2 separate regions of the Homo sapiens genome follow, and region 1 is linked to region 2. The links come from fine-mapping of genetic effects on gene expression. A gene starts in region 2. The other region holds a variant in brackets. All regions are shown on one strand. Distances are from middle to middle. Region 1 overlaps OLMALINC (oligodendrocyte maturation-associated long intergenic non-coding RNA). Region 2 holds the start of SCD (stearoyl-CoA desaturase).

Region 1 (10,698 bases), 47 kb after region 2:
GCCCACCTCAGCCTCCCAAAGTGCTGGGATTACAGGCGTGAGCCACTATGCCCGGCCCTCTAATCCTTCTTTAACAAACAACTGCTGGCTTTGCATTTCTCTTTCCTCCAAAATCGCCAAGGCCTCGACTTACTCACTGCTAAAAAAAGAGGACCCTGTATATTTTTAAACGAAGAGTGTTGTTTTTACCTAAATCAATCTGGCCTGGTGTATGACAACATAAAAAAACTCAAGGATAGACCCCAAAAATTCGCCAACCAAGCAAATAATTATGCTGAACCCCCTTGGGCACTCCCTAATTGGATGTCCTGGGTCCTTCCAATTCTTAGTCCTTTAATACCTATTTTTCTCTTTCTCTTATTCGGACCTTGTGTCTTCCTTCTGTTTAGTTTCTCAATTCATACAAAACTGCATCCAGGCCATCAACAATCATTCTATACGACAAATACTCCTTCTAACAAGCCCACAATATCACCCCTTATACCCAAATCTTTCTTCAGTTTAATCTCTCCTACTCTAGGTTCCCATGCCACCCCAATCCCACTCAAAGCAGCCCCGAGAAACATCGCCCATTATCTCTCCATACCACCCCCAAAAATTTTCGCTGCCTCAACACTTCACCACTATTTTGTTTTGTTTTTCATACTAATATAAGAAGATAGGAGTGTCAGGCCTCTGAGTCCAAGCTAAGCCATCAAATCCCCTGTGACCTGCACGTGTACATCCAGATGACCTGAAGCAACTGAAGATCCACAAAAGAAGTGAAAGTAGCCTTAACTGATGACATTCCACCATTGTGATTTGTTCCTGCCCCACGCTAACTGATACCATATATTCTTCCCCCGCCCTTGAGAATGTACTTTGTACACCTATCCCAAACCTATAAGAACTAATGATAATCCTACCACCCTTTGCTGACTCTCTTTTTGGACTCAGCCCGCCTGCACCCAGGTGAAATAAACAGCCCTGTTGCTCACACAAAGCCTGTTTGGTGGTCTCTTCACAAGGACGTGCGTGACACTACACTTGTTGAGTTTTAGTGTAGTATCAAAGAAGAATATCCACAATTATCTATTGAAATCCTTCTCCCTGTGGTGGCTCACATGTATAATCCCAGCACTTTGGGAGGCCAAAGTGGATGGATCACTTGAGTCCAGGAATTCAAGACCAGCCTGGACAACATGGTGAAACTTCATCTTTACCAAAATACAAAAATTAGTTGGGCGTGGTGGCATGTGCATGTATTCCTAGCTACTTGTGAGGCTGAAGCAGGAAGATCGCTTGAGCCTGGGAGGCAGAGGTTGCAGGAAGCCGAGATTGGCCCACTGCACTCCAGCCTGGGTGACAGAGTGAGACTCTATCTCAAAAAGAAAAAAAAAAATCCTCCTCCCTTTTCCAACTACATATTTGAATGAGATTAGATTTTCTTCATCTATTTCAACCAAACAACATATGGCAATAGATATGAGAATCCAGCTGTCTTCTATTAAGTCAGACATTAATGAGATTAGTAAAAATGTAGAATGACTCTCATCTCACTAAATATTTGTTTGCTTTGGAAAATAGTTATTTTCCTTTAAAAAACTGTTATAATAGTAATAGGTTTTTATTGTTATTTTATCTGTTTTTTTTTTTTTTTGGAGACATCTCTTTCTGTTGCTCAGGCTTGAATGGAGTGGCCTGAACACAAATCACTGAAGCCTCAACTTCCCAGGCCCCAGCAATCCTCCCGCCTCAGCCTCCCAAGTAGCTGGGATCACAGGTGTGTGCCACCAAGCCTGGCTAATTTTTAAAATTTTTTTTTGTAGATATGAGATCACACTATGTTGCCCAGGCTGGTCTCAAACTCCTGGACTCAAGCGATCTTCCCACCTCAGCCTCCCAAAGTGCTGGGATTACAGGCGTGAGCCACCACACCTCGCTGCTAGTATCTTTTGAAGCATTAAACTTTTTAATTTTGATGCAGTCCAGTTATCCATTTTTTATTTTGTTTCTTGTGCTTTTGGTGTCACATTAAAGAAGCCATTGTTTCAAGGTCACAAAGATTTACACTTAGTTTTCTTTTAAGAGTTTTATAATTACAGCTCTTACATTTAGGTCTTCGATCCCTTTTGATTTCATTTTTGTATGTAGTGTGAGGTACCTAAATAATTTTAAGGATATAAAGGGGTTGAGAGCTAAACGTTTGAGAATCACTGCTTTAACTTCTCTCAGCCTCAGTTTTCTCATCTTTAAAATGATAACTGGCCGGGCTTGGTGGCTCATGCCTGTAATCCCAGCACTTTGGGAGGCTGAGGCAGGCAGATCATTTGATGCCAGGAGTTCGCAACCAGCCTGGCCAACACAGTGAGACCCCATCTCTACTAAAAATATGGAAATTAGGCAGGTAGGGTGGCACGCACCTGTAATCCCAGTTACTTGGGAGGCTGAGGCAGGAGAATCACTTGAACCCAGGAGGCAGAGGTTGCAGTGAGCCAAGATTGCGCCACTGCACTCCAGCCTGGGCGACGGAGTGAGACTCTGTCTCAGAAATTAAAAAATAAATAAATAAAATGATAACTGTATTTGACTTACTACCTCATAGGGCAGCTATGAAGTAAAAAGAGGTCGTATAAATGAAAGACATAATAAAGCACTATTGAAATGTAAGTGATCATCACTGCTATTATTTTTATGTATATGTTGTCTGTCCAACCTGTTCAAAGATCCTTGGGTTTTTCCTTTTGTTCTACTGCCACAGCCCCTTCCTCATACTAGACACATAGCAGATCCTCAGTAAATATTTATTTGTGAACTGATAGATGCACTCAGTCTTGCCTGTGTTGTCAGAAGTAAAAAGAGAAGTATTTACATTTTGGTAGTCACTCCCTAGCCACTTCCTGCTCTCAACTCCTTAAGCCTAAAAAACTAATAAAAATAAAAATAAAAATAAAAAAACAACTTGTTAAGTTTGTAGTCAGCCAAGACTCATAGCCTTTTTCACTTGAACTGTTAAGCTAAGTCTTCCTTATCCTATGTTGGTGAAATTAATATTTTGAACATAAGCATGGGACTTTAAATGTATCCCTGGTTGGCCAGGTGCAGTTCATCACGCCTGTGATTGCAGCCCTTTGGGAGGCCAAGGCAGGTAGATCATGAGGTCAGGAGATCGAGACCATCCTGGCTAACACAGTGAAACCCTGTCTCTACTAAAAATACAAAAAATTAGCCGGGCAGGGTGGCATGCGCCTGTAGTCCCAGCTACTCGGGAGGCTGAGATAGGAGAATGGCTTGAACCCAGGAGGCGGAGGTTGCAGTGAGCTGAGATTGCGCCACTGCACTCCAGCCTGGGCGACAGAGCAAGACTCCATCTCAATAAATATATATATTATATATATATATATATATATATATATATATATTTCCCTGGTAAATTTCATTTATTTGTTAATTCTAACTTTGGAACCTATTGAGAGCTTTATGAATCCCAATTCAGTCTTCCAAGATATTAAATATCTCTTCTAGCTTTATTTAGTGGAAAATAGCATAAGCATGCCTTCTTTATCACAGATAAGAGGGTTGTCTAGGTCAGAGACAAGGACAAAGTGAAACGTTTTGTTTTGAACTAATCTGAAATGAGACATTCTTCTCCCTTGAGTACTATGCAGTGAGTGGATGAGCACGCCTGGTTTACCAAGGTCATTCCATCTTTGTTCCCCAAACAGTTCCTTATTTATGTCATGGACCAGCCTTAGAATCAGAGCCAGTAGAATAGCCAGTGAAGGAAAAGGAAAAATATTGTAGAATTTGTTAGGTAAAGGTAATATTCTTCACCAAAAAAAAAAAAAGCACAGCTAATAGTACCTCTGCCTTTTATCCTCAGTGAAGGCAAGAGAGTGAGGTGAAAGGGTAACAACATAGTTTGTTACCCAAGTGTTAAAAAACTTGGCAAGTGTGAGTGCTACCAAAGGCAGATGGACCCCAAGGCCATTCTAGCAATGAACGGAGGAAAACCTCAAGAAAGGAGCAGAAGGTGTGTTTAGAATCATGGGTTTTGGAATCAAGATGTTCAGTGGAATGTAAGGAAGAAGAAACACATTAGGATTGAGTCAGTCTGGTTTTGGTATTTGTAATTTCAGTAGAAAAATCTTTAACTTGCCTAGAGAGAAGTAATCTAGTGTTAATGGGCTGCTGACTCGGGCTTCTAACAAGAGCCTGACAGGGCAGATCCAGACTCAACCAATGTCTCCCTTCTGCTCTTGTCAGCACCCTTGTTTGAGTGCGGGGCTGGGGGAAGATTGGTGGGATATCACATAAGACAATGTCAGAGAAATAGATTGGGGGTGGGGGCCTCCCATGGGCTCTGTTCACTTGGAAAAGTCTCCTATAGTCTCTTTGTATTTTGTTCTTATTTTATATCTAAGTTATACTTGTACATGATTTAAAGAGTTAAATGGCCTTATAAGGCTTTTCCCCATCCCCCCCACTCCCCAACCCCTGCCATACGGCTTGTTTTGAAATAGCAGTGCCCTGGCCTCCTCTCCTCACCATTTTCAGCTCCTCAAAGGTAACCACTTTCAACTTCTCTTAATGGAACCTTCTGGCATTTACCTCTGTATCTCTAAATGACTTATCTCTAAAGGCTTATATGACTACGTATTAACTTAAACATGTTTACATTATTTATGAACTTCTCACCAGAGAAGATGAGAATTTTATCTTTTTCACCATCACCAGTGCCATCCCTACCACATCCTCACTCATTCACATAGTATCTGCATGCTTCACTTTCTCTGTCCTCTCAATACACTTGTGTTGTAAAAAATTTGGTTAATTAAATAGTGTTGGCCGGGTGTGGTGGCTCACACCTGTAATCCCAGCACTTTGGGAGGCTGAGGCAGGTGGATCACGGTGGTCAGGAGCTCAAGACCAGCCTCGCTTGAGCTAAAAATACAAAATTACTAAATTTTTGTACTAAAAATACAAAAATTAGCCGGGCGTGGTGGCGGTGCCTGTAATCCCAGCTACTAGGGAGGCTGAGGCAGAGAATTGCTTGAACCCGGGGAGC[G/A]GAGGTTGCAGTGAGCTGAGATCACGCCACTGCACTCTGGCCTGGGAGTCAGAGCAAGACTCTGTCTCCAGGAAAAAAAAAAAAAAAAAGTCAGTGTTTATATTGCTGTGACTATGCAAATATTGTTCACAAATAAGCGAAGTAATGTACCCAAGTAAGCTGAGTAATGTTTCTCTCTTGCATAACTTTTTGTGCTTTTTGGACCTAATAGTTGTATTTTTCTATGTACTTAATATATTAATTTAACTCAACCTCCGCCCCAGTTGTCTACATCTCTTCTCAATACACTTGGTCACATCAGATATTTTTTCAATTTCATTTTCTTGAAGAAATCTCTCCTGGAGCCCCCTCACATGCTCCAATCTGGACTGGTTACTCTCTCAACCTGTTGCATACATAATTTTTGTCCTGGGAATTCTCTTCAGCCTTGTTCTCTCCTGTGTTAGATCCCCTGTTCCTGGATCCTTTGTGTTCCTCTTTCTTGATTTACTCCCTTGCTTTGGATAAACCCATTCTATTTTTTTTTTTTTTTTTTTTGGGACAGAGTCTCACTATGTTGCCCAGGCCGGAGTGTGCTGTGCTGGCGTGATCTCGGCTCACTGTAACCTCTGCCTCCCAGGTTCAAGTGATTCTCGTGCCTCAACCTGTAGCTGGAACTATAGGCATGCACTACTACGCTGGGCTAATTTTTGCATTTTTAGTAGAGACGGGGTTTCACAGTGTTGGCCAGGCTGGTCTCAAGCTCCTGGCCTGAAGTGATCTGTCTGCCCTGGCCTCCCAAATTGCTGGGATTAGAGGTGTGGGTCCCCGCGCCCAGCTGAGAAACTCATTCTTTATTAGTCTTGTGAAAAAGGCATATTTTAAAGATATTCTCTTTGTTCTTGGTTTCCCAAAATTTCATGATGATGTGCTTTGGTATGGATCCATTTCCATCCATTATCAAAGACGTTTCCTAGTCCATTTCAATCTAGAAATGCTTTTCCTTCATTTCTGAGGATGTTTTTTGATTCATTGATGATTTCATCTTCCTCTTCCATTTTCTTTGTTCTTTCTTGAGTCTTCAGAATTGATTCTCTATTTTTAAAAGTTCCTATATTATTTTCCATGCCTTTTACTTTCGCTTGGCTTTCTAGATTCCCTGAACTTCATCTTACAAACCTTCTATTGAGTTGGGTTTTTTTTGTTTTGTTTTTTGGTTTTTTTTTGAGATGGAGTTTCGCTCTTGTCGCCCAGGCTGGAGTGCAGTGGCACGATCTCGGCTCACTGCAACCTCCGCCTCCCAGGTTCAAGTGATTCTCCTGTGTTAGCCTCCCGAGTAGCTGGGATTATAGATGCCCGCCACCTCGCCCGGCTAAGTTTTGTATTTTTAGTAGAGACGGGTTTCACCATGTTGGCCAGGCTGGTCTTGAACTCCTGACCTCAGATGATCCACCTGCCTCGGCCTCCCAAAGTGCTGGGATTACAGGCGTGAGCCACCACACCCAGCCCTATTGAGTTTTTAAGACCTGTTATCATACTTTAATTTTCAAAGATTCTGCTAGAATGTTTCCTTTTTACTGTATCTTGTCTGCTTCCATGGATGCAATATTTTCTGGGTTTTGTGTTTTGTTTTGTTTTGTTTTTTAGAGGCAGGGTCTTGCTTTATTGCCCAGGCTGATCTTGAATTCCTAGCTTCAAGCAATCCTCTATCTAGCCTCAGCCTCCCAAGGTGCTGAGATTATAGGTGTGAGCCAAAACACCCAGCCTGCAATATTTTCTTATTCCTTTAAGAATATTAGTGATTAGTTGGGGAATATTTTTCTTTCCCTACAAAGTCTCTTGCCCTCCAAGTTTTTTCTGTCCTGTTTTCTGTTTTGGCAGATTTGTTTCTGCAGATAATGAATGATCCTTGGCTATCTGTTTATGTATAACAATGCGGCACCAAAAAGCCAGCTGGAGGCTCTGCACATGTGGTAGGCCACATTCAGTATGAGCACATCTCTGTCTTTCTGACTGGATGGTTTCTTAGAGTAATTCCCAATACTAGTATCACAGTTTTTTTGTTTATTTGTTTTGTTTTTGTTTTGAGACAGGATCTCGCTCTGTTGCCCAGGCCCCAGGCTGGAGTGTAGTGGCGTGATCACAGCTCACTGCAACCTCCACCTCCCGGGTTCAAGAGATTCTTGTGCCTCAGCCTCCCAAGTAGCTGGGGTTACAGGTCTGTGTCACCATGCTGGCTAGTTTTGTTTGTTTGTTTGTTTGTTTTGAGATGGAGTCTCGCACTGTTGCCAGGCTGGAGTGCAGTGGTGCAATCTCGGCTCACTGCAACCTCTGCTCCCAGGTTCAAGCGATTCTCCTACCTCAGCCTCTCGAATAGCTGGGACTACAAGTGCACACCACCACGCCCAGCTAATTTTTGTATTTTTAGAGACAGGGTTTCACCATGTTGGCCAGGATGGTCTCCATCTCTTGACCTCGTGATCCGCCCACCTTGGCCTCCCAAAGTGCTGGGATTACAGGTGTGAGCCACTGCGCCCAGCCTAGTTTTTGTATTTTTAATAGAGGTAGGGTTTCACCATGTTGCCCAGGCTTGTCTTGAACTCCTGGCCTCAAGTGATCTGCCTGCTTTGGCCTCCCCAAGTGCCCTAGGATTGTAGGCGTGAGCCACTGCATCCTGCCTATATCATAGCTTTTTTTCTTTTAGGTTGTCAGAATCTGCAGAGAAGCTTCCTCCAATCTCCAGCCTGAGAGTTCAGGCCTGGTTACCAGCATTCTAGAAGCTGAAAGAGGAGAAGTTCTTGGAAGACTAAGAAGTCCAACATTCGGTATACAAATATTAGTCTTTAGCCTTTGCTCTTTTTTTCTATAATACCGTGTAGTTTCTGTCTCCTGAATGGACCCAGACTGATGCTATAACTCAGCCTTTAACTGATTCTGGTATTCCCCAGTCAAGAGATCCTTGATTTCACTCTTTCTGATGAATCGACCTCCAGTGTTTTACCTGGAGTCAGGAGAACTAACAATTTCTTCAACAATTATTCTATTCTTAGCCATACCTTCCCCTTTCTCCTCCCCTTCCAAAGGTAGCTGGGGCCACCAAATCTTGAACCTTTGTGGGTTCTTTGGTGTAAACTACTTTGCTTTTGGCTACCCCCGCTGCCTGCTGAAGCTTCAGCTTTCCAGGTTCTACTAAGACAGCTATTACTCATAATCTGTTTTCCACCTTCCAAAATTTTATTGTGGTCTCTTCCCCATTCTTTTGTCCTTGTGGGATTATACCTCTCAAAAACCCTTTACTGTTATTTTACTATAGTTTGGGGAGGGAGCAAATGCATGTGTTCAAAATGTCTTCTTTATCCTGAATCTCTCTCTCAGAACCTATTTATCCTGCACATATTTACTGGGTGCCTCATCAGGGTAGGTACTATTCAAATATTTGGATACATTAGGGAACAGAATAGAATATCCTTACACTTGTGGGGTTTACATTCTAGTGTGTGTACGCACAACAGAGGAACAGATTATAAAAATTAAATCTAAGTATGTAGATTAAAAAAAAATTTTTTTTGAAACAGTCTTTCTCTGTCGCCCAGGGTGGAGTACAGTGGTACAATCTTGGTTCACTGCAACCTCTGCCTCCCGGGTTCAAGGGATTCAAGTGATTCTTGTGCCTCAGCCTCCTGAGTAGCTGGGACTGCAGGCATGCACCACCACACCCAGCTAATTTTTGTAGTTTTAATAGAGATGGGGTTTTGCCATGTTGCTCAGGCTGGCCTTGAACTCCTGGCCTCAAGTGATCCACCTGCCTCAGCCTCCTAAAGTGCTGGAATTAAGGCGTGAGCCACTGCGCACGGCCCAATATGTAGATTATATAGTAAGTATTAGATAGATAAGGTTTATTTATTTATTTATTTCTGAGACGGAGTCTCGCTCAGTTACCCAGGCTGGAGAGCAGTGGCGCGACCTCAGCTCACTGCAACCTCTGCCTTCTGGGTTCAAGCAATTCTCCTGCCTTAGCCTCCTGAGTAGCTGGGATTACAGGTGCCGTCACCACACCCAGCTAATTTTTGTATTTTTAGTTGAGACAGGGTCTCATCATGTTGGCCAAGCTGGTTTCAAACTCCTGACCTCAGGTGATCCACCTGTCTCAGCCTCCCAAAGTGCTGGGATTACAGGCGTGAACCACTGCGCCCAGCAGATAAGGTTTAAAAGCACTATGAAAAAAAGTAGGGCCAAGTGCTGTGGCTCATGCCTGTAATTTCAGTACTTTGGGAGGCTGATGTTGAAGGACTGCTTGAGGCCAGGAGTTAGGGACCAGCCTGAGTAACATAGCAAGACTCCATCTCTATTATAAAAAAACAGAAAGAGAGAGAGAAATGGTACAGCAGGAAATGCTGAATCAGGAGTAATGGGCAGGTGGTAGGCTGCAGTATTTAACAGAATGATCAGGCTGGGCGCAGTGGCTCATGTCTATAATCCCAGCACTTTGGGAGGCTGAGGCAGGCAGATCATTTGTGGTCAGTTCGAGACCAGCCTGGCCAACATGGCGAAACCCGTATCTACTAGTAATACAAAAATTAGCTGGGTATGGTGGCAGGTGCCTGTAATCCCAGCTGCTCGGGAGGCTGAGGCAGGAGAAGCACTGGAACCTGGGAGGTGGAGGTTGCAGTGAGCCGAGATCATGCCACAGCACTCCAGCCTGGGTGACAGAGTGAAACTGAGTCTCAAAAATAATAATAATAATAATAATAGAAGGATCAAAGTAAGTATCATTGAAGAAGCAAAATTTGAGCAAAGATTTGAGGGAACTGCAACTGTAAATATATATATTTCTATTATTTTTTGTTTGTTTGTTTCTATTTTCAGTTTTCTTTAAAATACATATATTTCTGGCCGGGCGCCGTGGCTCACCCCTGTAATCCCAGTGCTTTGAGAGGCCGAGGCAGGCGGATCATGAGGTCAGGAGTTCAAGGCCAGCCTGGCCAACATGGTGAAACCCCGTTTCTACTAAAAGAAAATACAAAAAATTAGCTGGACGTGTTGGCAGGCACCTGTAATCCCAGCTACCTGGGAGGCTGAGGCAGGAGAATTGCTTGACCCCGAGAGATGGAGGTTGCAGTGAGCCGAGATTGTGCCATTGCATTCCAGCCTGGACAATAGAGCAGGACTCTGTCTCAAAAAAAAAAATTTTTTTTTTTTTAAAGAAGAAGGAAAAAATATATAACTTTTGTTTGTTTGTTTGTTTCTGAGACAGGGTCTCACTCTGTTATCCAGGCTGGAGTGCAGTGGCACCATCAGGGCTCACTGCAGCCTCCACCTCCCGGGCTCAAGTGATCTTCCCACCTCAACCCCCTGAGTAGCTGGGACTACAGGCGCATGCCACCACACCTGGTGAATTTTTTCTTTTTTAAGTAGAGATGGGATTTTGCCATGTTGCCCAGGTTGGTCTTGAACTTCTGGACTCAAGCAATCCACCCACCTTGGCCTGCCAAAGTGCTGGAATTACAGGCATGAGCCACCACACACACCCATCTTTAAATGGTCTTTTTATTTTTTTATTTTTATTTTTATTTTTTTGAGATGGAGTCTCACTCTGTCGCCCAGGCTGGAGTGCAGTGGTGCGATCTCGGCCCACTGCAAGCTCTGCCCCCCGGGTTCACACCATTCTCCTG
Region 2 (10,660 bases):
TGATCACGGGGGAAGTGGTGAGTGGTGGCAGGGCAGGGGAGAAGCAGCGCCCAGCAAGTGTCCTTCTGACTTTCTGCTCAGCATGTTTGTTCTGTGGCTGGAAAGAATGAGTTACTAGACAAAACATATGAAGTACCTAGTACGCACCTAGCAGATGTTAGGTACAGACAAATCCCCATCACATCCCCCACCTCAGTGCTCCCAGGCTGGTACAACTTTTCTGAGCCTTGCAAAATACAGGTAAATATGTGGGTAAATATTAGTAGATTATCAAAGCACCTAGCACAGTGCACATAAATAGATGCTTAAATAAATAAAAATAAATTTTAAAAAAACACTAAATGACTCTGTCACCAGCCCATTCTCTTCCCCTACCCGATTCTAGGGGCACCTCTTAGGAAGGGCGCCCCTCTCTCTTCCCTGAACTCCGACCCTGTTTAATATAGTATGTTTACACTCTGCCTTCATCAGATGCTAGCCTGCCCAGTTTGCTATTGTGCTTTGTCCTGTTTCTCTTAGAAATCTGTGAGCTCCCCAGGGGTGGGAGCAGAACTTTGGCTCCATTCTCCCCCACACAGCAGAGAATTGACTTTCCGCTGGGCACAGGGGAGGCTCAGTCAACACTCTATCCCCATGTGGCTACGTTGGCTTAGAGGCACAGAATGGGAGAGAAGCAGGCTCTTGGCTGAGGAAAAGCCCTGGGCGAGCACTGAGGGAAGCTTGGCCTCAGACATAGCCAGCTGCCCTCTGGACCTCGCAGCCCTGCTGTGCCCAGCTCAGCTGCTGTGTCAGTGCAAAGCCAGGGTGACATCAGCTGTGGGAGAGGTTACTGTCAGGCAAAGGGAAGGCCAGGAGAGAGATGGCTGGCTGGGGCACGAGGCTAGAAGGACTCAGGAAACAGTTCCCTTGTAGGGGAAGCAGCAGCTTGGGAGGGGCAGTTGGGAGGAGAGAAGCAAAAGGGGTGAAGGGCCAGGAATGGCCAGGGCCTGCCTGTTCCTTTCACCTACAGCAGGGAGAGAGGCATGGGTTCAGAACTCTGGAAGAGAGTGTGACCTTCCTGGGAGCACTCTTAGCAACTGCAGGAAGCAAATGGGGATTTACCTCTCTACGACCAGGAAGGCAACACAGGAGCCGGGCACGGTGGCTCATGCCTGTAATCCCAACACTTTGGGGGGCTGAGGCGGGTAGATCACGAGGTCAGGAGTTCGAGACTGGCCTGGCCAGTATGGTGAAACCCCATCTCTACTAAAAATACAAAAGTTAGCCAGGAGGGGTGGCATGCACCTGTAATCCCAGCTACTTGGGAGGCTGAGGCAGGAGAATTGCTTGATTCTGGGAGGCAGAAGTTGCAGTGAGCCAAGACTGTACCACTGCACTCCAACCTGACAACAGAGCAAGACTCCGTCTCAAAAAGAAAAAAAAGAAAGAAAGAAAGAAAAAACGCGGGGGCAAGCTGCTCTTCTCTCTTTACTTTGGCTCAGAAGCTGAGTCAGGGCAAGAGAGACTTTCCCTTCAGCTTGTTTATTTGTTGTTGGAGGCCCTAGGCCTGTGTTTGCTTTTCCTCTCCATGTGTTCATCCTAGATGGCTTGCTCAGAATGGGGTAGCCTTCCAGGCTGGGGAAAGATCCCCTATGGGCCTCCAGAGGAGGGAGGGAGTAGTCTGTGGCCTGGGAAAAGGCATCTTTGTAAGGTCAGACCACTGCAGAAATCTCTGGCCCTGGTCCTGGTCCTAAGACATTTGTCCCCAGGCCTCATCTGCTGGGACTGTCAGTACCCATCTCACACATTCTGCCCTGAGACATAAACTGCTTCCAGTCACACGCACTATCTGATCTGAGGACGTACCCCAGGGCCCCAGGGATAGGTAACAATAAGTTGGTGGAGGCCCGTCCGCCAGTATGCATACCTGTGTGTGCAGACATTCCCGTGTGTGAGCACACACAGAAAGGGCTGGAGTGAGAGGAAGATCATGGCTCTGTGGATAGTGTGGAGAGACAGATGTCTGCCAACAGAGGGAGGTGTGGGGCTAGTGCACTGGCCTCTTCTCTACCGGGGAAAGACGTGCTACACCATCTATCCAGCCTGGGGCCCAGGAGGAGCCATATTCAAGGGTCCTCGTTCATAGTATATCAGGTCAGTCTTTTCCTCCTCTAGGTCTCTGAACTTGCCAACTGCCCTTCTCCACACTCACCCTTAATGGTCCCTTCGGATTTAGCACCGTCTCCTCCGGGAAGTCTTCTCTCGTTCTCTGGAGCTGGTCTGGAGTGTACCTTTCCTCTGGAGCCTATAGCTCAATCATCTAGAGTTATAAAGATACAGTGGCTGACGCCTGTAATCACAGCACTTTCGGAGGACAAGGCAGGTGGATCACTTGAGGTCAGGAGTTTGAGACCAGCCTGGCCAACATGGCAAAATCTCATCTCTACTAAAAATACAAAAATTAGCCGGGTGTGGTGGTGCACGCCTGTAATCCCAGCTCCTTGGGAGCTTGAGGTAGGAGAATTGCTTGAACCCCAGAGGTGGAGGTTGCAGTGAGCTGAGATCGTGCCACTGCACTCCAGCTTGGGCAACAGAGCAAGACTCCACCCCCACCCCCCAGGTTCAAGCGATTGTCCTGCCTCAGCCTGCCTCAGCCTCCCAAGCAGCTAGGATTATAGGTGCCCGCCACCACCCTGGGCTAATTTTTTGTATTTTTAGTAGAGACGGGGTTTCACCATGTTGCCCAGGCTGATCTGGAACTCCTGACCGCAGGCGATCTACCCGCCTCGGCCTCCCAAAAGTGCTAGCATTACAAGCGTGAGCCACCATGCCCAGTCTTTAGTTTTTTTTTTTTTTTATACTTTTCTTATTGAGATATAATTTATATACCATAGAATTCATCCATTTAAATCATACAATTTAATGGCTTTTAGTATATTCACAGGTTGTGCATCCATCACAATCCATTTTAGAACAGTTTTATTACTCCAAAAATAAACCCTGCATTCCTTAGCCATCACCCCCCAACATCCTCCATCCTCCTTCCAAGCCCTGGGCAACCACCAATCTACTTTCTGTCTCTATAAATTTGCCAATTCTGGACATTTCATATAAATGGAAGCAAACAACATGTGAGACTTTGTGACTGGCTGCTTTCACTTAGCATTCTATTTTTAAGGCTCATTATGTTACAGTACTTAGCAGTACTTCATTCTTTTTTATTCTCAAATGGTATTCCACTGTGTGGGTATCCCATATCATATTATTAGAGACAGGTTCTCACTCTGTCACCCAGGCTGGAGTGCAGTGGCACAATCATAGCTCACTGTAACCTCAAACTCCTGGGCTCAAGTGATCCTACTACCTCAGCCTCCAGAGTAGCTAGGACTACAGGCACACACAGCCATACCTGGCTAATTTTTTTTTTTAATTTTCATTTTATGTATTCATTTTCTTTCTTTTTTGTTGTTGTTGTTTTGAGATAGGGTCTCACTTTGTTACCCAGGCTGGAGGGCAGTGGCATGGTGACAGCTGAGCAGCCTTGACTTCCTGGGCTCAAGTGATCCTCCTGCCTCAGCCTCCCAAGTAGCTGGGACTACAAACACGTGTCACCATGCCTGGCTGATATTTTTTTTCTTGAAACAGGGTATCACTCTGTTGCCCAGGCTGGAGTACAGTGGCGTAATAATAGCTCACTGCAGCCTCCCCTCCTGGGCTCAAGCAATCCGCTGGCCTCAGCATCCTGAGTAGCTGGGACTACAGGCTTGTGCCACCAGGCCCAGCTAAGTTTTAAAAAATGATTTTTGGTATAGAGGAGGTCTTGCTATGTTGCTCAGGCTGTATTTTTATTGTTGAGACAAGGTCTCACTATGTTGCCATGATCCCCCCACCTCCACTTCCCAAAGTGCTCATCTTATCTGTTCATTAGTCAGTTGACAGACATTTAGGTTGTTTCCACTTTTTGACCATTATGAATAATACTCCAGTGAATATTCATGTATACATTTGTGTGGGCATATGTTTTCATTTCTGTTGGGTTTATATCTAGGAGTGGAATTGCTGGATCCCGGGTAATATTTTGACAGGCAGAGTTCAGGGGAAGAAAAACTTGGGAAAATGAAGCATGTTTAGAAATCAGCAAGAGTGCAGGGGTTTTTCGGAGTTTTATTTTATATTCTGTTGACAAATGTGCAGTTTGATGAAGATACAAGTTATACTAAGTGAGAAGTGAGAATTAAGGCTGGAATAGGGCGTTCAGAGTAAAATCATGAAGCACTTTGAATACCAAAATTAAGGAGCTTGGCTGTAAACAAAATAATAAAAAATCACAATTTTTTTTTTTTTTTTGAGAAAGAGTCTTGCTCTTTCACCCTGGCTGGAGGGCAGTGGTGTGATCTCAGCTCACTGCAACTTTCGCCTCCCGGGTTCAAGCAATTCTCCTGCTTCAGCCTCCCAAGTAGCTGGGACTACAGGCACTTCCCACCATGCCCAGCTGATTTTTGTATTTTTAGTAGAGATGGGATTTCACTTTGTTGGCCAAGCTGGTCTCAAACTTTTTGCTGTCATAATTGTTGTAACTATTGTTCCTTTTGCTGAGGTAGGGCCCCCAGACCAAAAAAAATAAATCTTAGAATCCAAATCAGTGTGTTGGTTTGACCACTGTCACTTGAGAACCACAGTGTGACCAGGGCCTCAGGAGTAGAGGTGATCTCTGCTCGAAAGAGAAATAGAATGAAAATATTCTCCGGGCCAGGCGTGGTGGCTCATGCCTGTAATCCCAGCACTTTGGGAGGCCAAGGCATGTGGATCACCTGAGGTCAGGAGTTCAAAACCAGCCTGGCCAACATGGTGAAACCCCGTCTCTACTAAAAATACAAAAAATTAGCTAAGTGTGGTGGCGCATGCCTGTAATCCCAGCTACTTGGGAGGGTGAGGCAGGAGAATTTCTTGAACCCGGGAGGCAGAGGTTGCAGTGAAGCGAGATCACACCACTGCACTCCAGCCTGGGGGAGAGAGCGAGACTTCCTCTCAAAAAAACAAAAAACAAAAGAATTAAGCAAATTAGACATTGCAGAGAGAACCTGAAGGGGGTCAGACCACGTACAGATTTCTGTGCCACATGCCAAGTACTTCTGAGGCATGACTGGATGAGCTGTCCACATCTGAAATCATCCAGTCTTGTTCAGAACTTTCACACCGGACAGGGAGCCAGGACTGGAATGCAGTCTCCTGGTCACTGGCCAGAGAGTTGGCCTGACCCTGAGACCAGTGGCCAACAAAGGAGCTGCTTAGTCTACCTCCCAGGAAATCCCAGGTGCTTGTCTTCCTGGGAAGTGAATCATTGGCGCAGCACTCCGTATTTTCTCCTCTTCCCAGGGGAAGGATCCTAGGGCAGTATTTGGGAAAGACATGGGCATGGAAGGACACCGGGTGAATGCATAGCCTGCCTGGTTCTGAGCTCTCATGGTAAGGCTCCTACAGACACGGAAAAGATGGGGGCACAGGGACAGATCAGTAGGGTCAGAGCATCTCAGGGACCGAGGGCAATATGGTCCTGAGCAGGGATTAAGAGCTTGGGCTCTCATATGGTGTTTCTGGGCTCAACTGCCAGCTCCATCACTTACTGGTTGCTGTGACCATGGGCAAGTTATTCCATCTCTCCATATCTCTTTCCTCACTTTTAAAATGGAATAATGGGGTACCCACCTCCCAGGGTCACAGAGAGGCTTACAGAAAACGATTCTTGTGAATTGGCTTGCAGTAATAATTCAATACCTGCCAGCTATTCTTATTCCACATCCAAGCCCTTTCGCCTGCTGCTGGGTGAAAACACATGTCAGTGTTTCCTGACGGTTTCCACAAAGAAGATTCCAAAATTACAACCTGCCAGTCTGAAGAATCTCCAAAACATCCCGCACGCATCCTGGAGGCGCGGGCTTGGGGATGGGACTGCCCGCCCGGGTCCTGAACAGGATGCGTGCGCGCAGGCACACACACACCAGCCAGCCTGTGTGTGCGGCCGGAGTCCGGTGCGGTCCCGGGTGAGCAGCGCGTGGCTGGTGGGCGGGGCAGAGCCATTGTTCGCAGGCGTACCGAGTCCCCCGCGCTCGCCCGGGAGGGAGGCGGGGCTTCCCGCGTCCCCCAAGCTCCAGATCCTGGGGTGGCTGCCACGTCTCCCTGCCACGCGCCTGGGGGGACGGAAGACGGGACGGAGATGTTAGTGGTGGGCGCCCCCCGAGGGTTCACCACTGTTTCCTGAGAAACTTCCCCAGTGCCCACCCACCCGTTCTCCGTGTGCCCGAGGGCCGGTCCTGGGCTAGGCTCCGCGCCCCAGCCCCAAACCGGGTCCCCAGCCCCTTCCAGAGAGAAAGCTCCCGACGCGGGATGCCGGGCAGAGGCCCAGCGGCGGGTGGAAGAGAAGCTGAGAAGGAGAAACAGAGGGGAGGGGGAGCGAGGAGCTGGCGGCAGAGGGAACAGCAGATTGCGCCGAGCCAATGGCAACGGCAGGACGAGGTGGCACCAAATTCCCTTCGGCCAATGACGAGCCGGAGTTTACAGAAGCCTCATTAGCATTTCCCCAGAGGCAGGGGCAGGGGCAGAGGCCGGGTGGTGTGGTGTCGGTGTCGGCAGCATCCCCGGCGCCCTGCTGCGGTCGCCGCGAGCCTCGGCCTCTGTCTCCTCCCCCTCCCGCCCTTACCTCCACGCGGGACCGCCCGCGCCAGTCAACTCCTCGCACTTTGCCCCTGCTTGGCAGCGGATAAAAGGGGGCTGAGGAAATACCGGACACGGTCACCCGTTGCCAGCTCTAGCCTTTAAATTCCCGGCTCGGGGACCTCCACGCACCGCGGCTAGCGCCGACAACCAGCTAGCGTGCAAGGCGCCGCGGCTCAGCGCGTACCGGCGGGCTTCGAAACCGCAGTCCTCCGGCGACCCCGAACTCCGCTCCGGAGCCTCAGCCCCCTGGAAAGTGATCCCGGCATCCGAGAGCCAAGATGCCGGCCCACTTGCTGCAGGACGATGTGAGTTTCCCAGCCTGGCCCCGTACCGCCGGGTCGCAGGCGCGGGCTGGGCTTCCAGGGGACGGGTTGGTGGCAGAAGAGAGGGGAGAGCTCCGCGGAGGACTTGGTCATCTTTTTCGAGTTGTGCTGCCTTCCGTGAGTTGGGAATGTGGATTGTAATTTGGGGACTTGAGTCTCCAACTTTAGTTTCTTAAGCTTTAAAGAAAAATCCGGTCGTGCTGGTGCTTTTATGAATTATGCGGGTTTTCCTTTGTCTTCGTGGGGATGTGAGTGCTTTACTTCTCCTTCCTACTGCCGCCTCCCGATAGGTTTCGCGCCCCTCGTCCCCCTCGCCCTCCGCCCCTAATGTATCTGTACAGTTTCAGGGAACTTTTCTCCGTTGCGTCTCGGATACACCCTACCCTCAGTGAACTACGGCGCTGCGGAAGGGTCCGTACTGTCCACCCTTCCCCCAGCGTGATTAGAGAGCGGAGTGGCCCCAGCTGCCTCCACGTGTCTCTTCTCCTGACTCTCCTCTTCCTCCCCCTTCCAGATCTCTAGCTCCTATACCACCACCACCACCATTACAGCGCCTCCCTCCAGGGTCCTGCAGAATGGAGGAGATAAGTTGGAGACGATGCCCCTCTACTTGGAAGACGACATTCGCCCTGATATAAAAGATGATATATATGACCCCACCTACAAGGATAAGGAAGGCCCAAGCCCCAAGGTTGAATATGTCTGGAGAAACATCATCCTTATGTCTCTGCTACACTTGGGAGCCCTGTATGGGATCACTTTGATTCCTACCTGCAAGTTCTACACCTGGCTTTGGGGTAAGCAGCCTCCCTGTCCTCCTGACCTAGTCCTCCAGGTACTCACTGCTCTTTTAATAAGGTAGGATCTTACAGAGGACACCAGCCCCTCCCAGCCTCCCGGTTGGGGTTTTTCTCAGGCATTTCTCTTTGGTTGCTTCAGGCCTAGTGGGCTGGGAAGAACCTGGGGGTACTGAGATGCAGGACTGTCAATGCTGGGGGTTGAGAGCTTTGGAACCTTGTGCTTGTGGGCTTTGAAGTGTGCTGTGCTGGAGAGTCAGCTTTCCCTGAAAGAGCTTTTCTGTTTGAGTCATTTGCTTGGCTGCCTGTCCCACCCCTGCCAGCCACAAAAGAATCAAACCCCTCTACCTGGGAGGCATGGGAACATGGTACTAAACCATTGGCTTTCTAGGGTTTGTGTTGAGCAATCATAGGCTAGCACAAGGGAAACTACTCAGGGAGAGAGTTTATTGGAAAGGGAGGAGAGAGCTCATTGGAAAGAGAGGAAAAGAGAGGTTGTTATCCACAAAACTATTTTGACCTGACCCCTTGGCCAGACCAGGCTTCTTCGTTACAGAGGAAGATGAAGCTCCCGTGCAACCCAAGTCACACAGGTGTGTGTTGCTCTGTTACTCTACATTCCAGGGTGCTGCACATACCAGTCAACAAAATGCTCTTAGAATGAAATCAGGCTGAAGATATGTTTCATGTTCCATCCCCCGTCCAGCCTGCTTCAGGCCCCCCTACTGATGCCATGAAGTGCCAAGAATTCTGCACCTTCCAACACCAGTCCTACCCATCCCTCCTTGCCAGGGACATCGAGGCCAGGCCAGAAAAGAGAGCCCGGTCTTGAGGCTGCTGTAATGAGGGAGACAGTTCCCAGTTTGTCCCCGACCTGCCCTTAGCTCAGCTCTTTCAGGGACCTGTTGGTGTGGCCTGATGGCATGGCCCTGCCCCCTGGATACACACATGCGCTTTGCAGGCTTTTTCACCTCTGTCACTATGAGCCTAAGTTGGGAAGGGAAAGCAGGGAGCTCTGCAGATCCAGGGGCCCTGCACTGCTACTCTCTAAGGGGTGGTGAGCCAGGACTTCTGGTGTGGGAAACTTTCTGACAGCTCGCTCTTGAAGGGTAGTTATGCAGAAGGGCTGGTAGGCCAAGTTTTAGCTGTTTCCCTCAGGACCTCTTAGGTCTTCTGAAGATGGTGAGATCTGGTTCATTGAGCTTTTGTTTCCAGAAATCCTCCAGGTGCTACAGTGAAATGCAACTGAGAAGAGCCCCTTTGTCAGGATCTCAGTTTTTCTAGGTACCACCTGTGGGCAACAGTACTTTTTTAGGATGGGGAAGGTAGCATTCCTTGGGTTACATATGTGTCACAGCCGCAGAGACAGAACAGGCCAGGTGCAGATCAGTTCATCTGCATACCAGGAAGAGCTCTTGTATTTGTGAGGGGAGGGCGACATCTGTTGTCTAGCCCCTCTGAGGATCCAGCAGAACTTCAGTTGCAGCTGAGGGATGAGGAGCAGGGATAGCATTCCCCAGGCAGTCTGTGGATGCCTCTCTCCACCCTTTCTCCCCAAGAGGATAGTCTTCACAAGTAGTTTTCTCTCCTGCAAGCTCCTTCCAGCCTCAGCACCCCCTGTAGGTTTCCTGAAGCCCAGAGTTTGACCCGATTGCCTCTGCTTGGTTATCCTCAGTTGCTACTGCAAGGAGCAGAATTCCATCCCAAAGTGAAGGCTGTGCCTGCTACATTTTTTTGGTGACCTGCCCATGGGTGTGTGCTGTGCCCTTGGGCAGATAAATGTGGCTCACAGAGACTAGATGGTAACTTATTTTACTGGGCCCTTTGGTGGATGGCTTAGCTGAAAGAATGACCATGTCGATGTGGGGATATCAGAACTCCTCTGTCTTGAGAAACAAGGAGGGTGAGGGGAGGAGGGTCAGAGGTCTCAACTTGGACATCTTCTCTTCCCACCTTCAGAATTTAGGAGCTTCACCTTTCTTGTTTTAATCCCTATGGACAATGTTAAATTAGCAACTGGTCGTGATTCCAGCATTTCTTATGACTGAGCACTTTTGAGAGCCTTAAATCTCTTTCATTTTGGAGTCTCCCAAAGAAGCCCTTAGGAGAATGCCTCTGGCAACACTGAGAGCCAGAGGCAAAACCATTCAAGTCTCTTTCTTAAGGCCAGAGCAATGAGATGTTGCTTAACCATCAATCTGGACATTTTCCTCCCCTGGGGAGGAGAGAAGGAATAAATCTCCAACTGATTTAAGCCCTTCTATTTGATAGGCTTAGAGGTGTTTCTAGAAAAGGCACCAGAGTGCCTGAGTTCTTTCCCCAATTTCCCTGTTAATATAGGATCTTATATACGTTCTGAGTCAACACTGCCCTAGGGTCTTGCAGCAAATAACAACCCTAGAAGCTCCCTTGCTCATTAGAGAGAGCTCTGGCTCAACTGATGGTTTCCCGAGTAAGATGCAGGTAGATACTGTATCTGGGGAGATGTCAGTCACCACTTGGCTTGAGGGCAGATCACCTGGGGCCTCAGTCCCCACTCTGAGGGAATGTGGAGAGAGCTCTTGTTGGGGCTGACTGGCTCTGTGGCTCTCCTGGAGATCTTATAGGAGGAATAGAAGAGAAGAAAGGAGGTAGGGTTGGGGGGAAAAGGAGGTTGTTTAGGAAACAGCTATCAATGGCTGCAAAAGAACACAGGACAATTTGTTACAATGTGTGGTGTCTCCAACTGCAACTAAGTTCTGTGGCCACTGAGGATCTATTGTTTCTAGCTGTTTCCCTAGGAATGAAACATTGTTAAGAGTTTCTATCAAGGCCACAGCTTCTGCCTGCTAGAGCTACTGAACAGAG

The links. PIP is the estimated chance that this variant, and not a neighbour inherited with it, causes the effect.
Region 1: its variant is the best candidate, but not a certain one, in a credible set for the expression of SCD in whole blood (TOPMed, PIP 0.90).

What each region holds. Positions count from the first base shown.
Region 1 is chr10:100,387,379-100,398,076 of GRCh38, forward strand. It overlaps OLMALINC (oligodendrocyte maturation-associated long intergenic non-coding RNA), which reads left to right. Exons shown (of 3, transcript NR_026762.1): 3 at 659-976. Among named protein-coding and RNA genes, the nearest start is that of OLMALINC, 19 kb to the left of the region's middle. The variant G/A (reference allele first, on the strand shown) is at 5,048.
Region 2 is chr10:100,340,534-100,351,193 of GRCh38, forward strand. SCD (stearoyl-CoA desaturase) reads left to right here and starts at 6,700. Exons shown (of 6, transcript NM_005063.5): 1 at 6,700-6,998; 2 at 7,531-7,813. The coding sequence starts at 6,972. RefSeq lists enhancers at 1,899-2,193, 6,135-6,726, 6,375-6,444, 6,825-7,064 and silencers at 5,965-6,344, 6,545-6,594.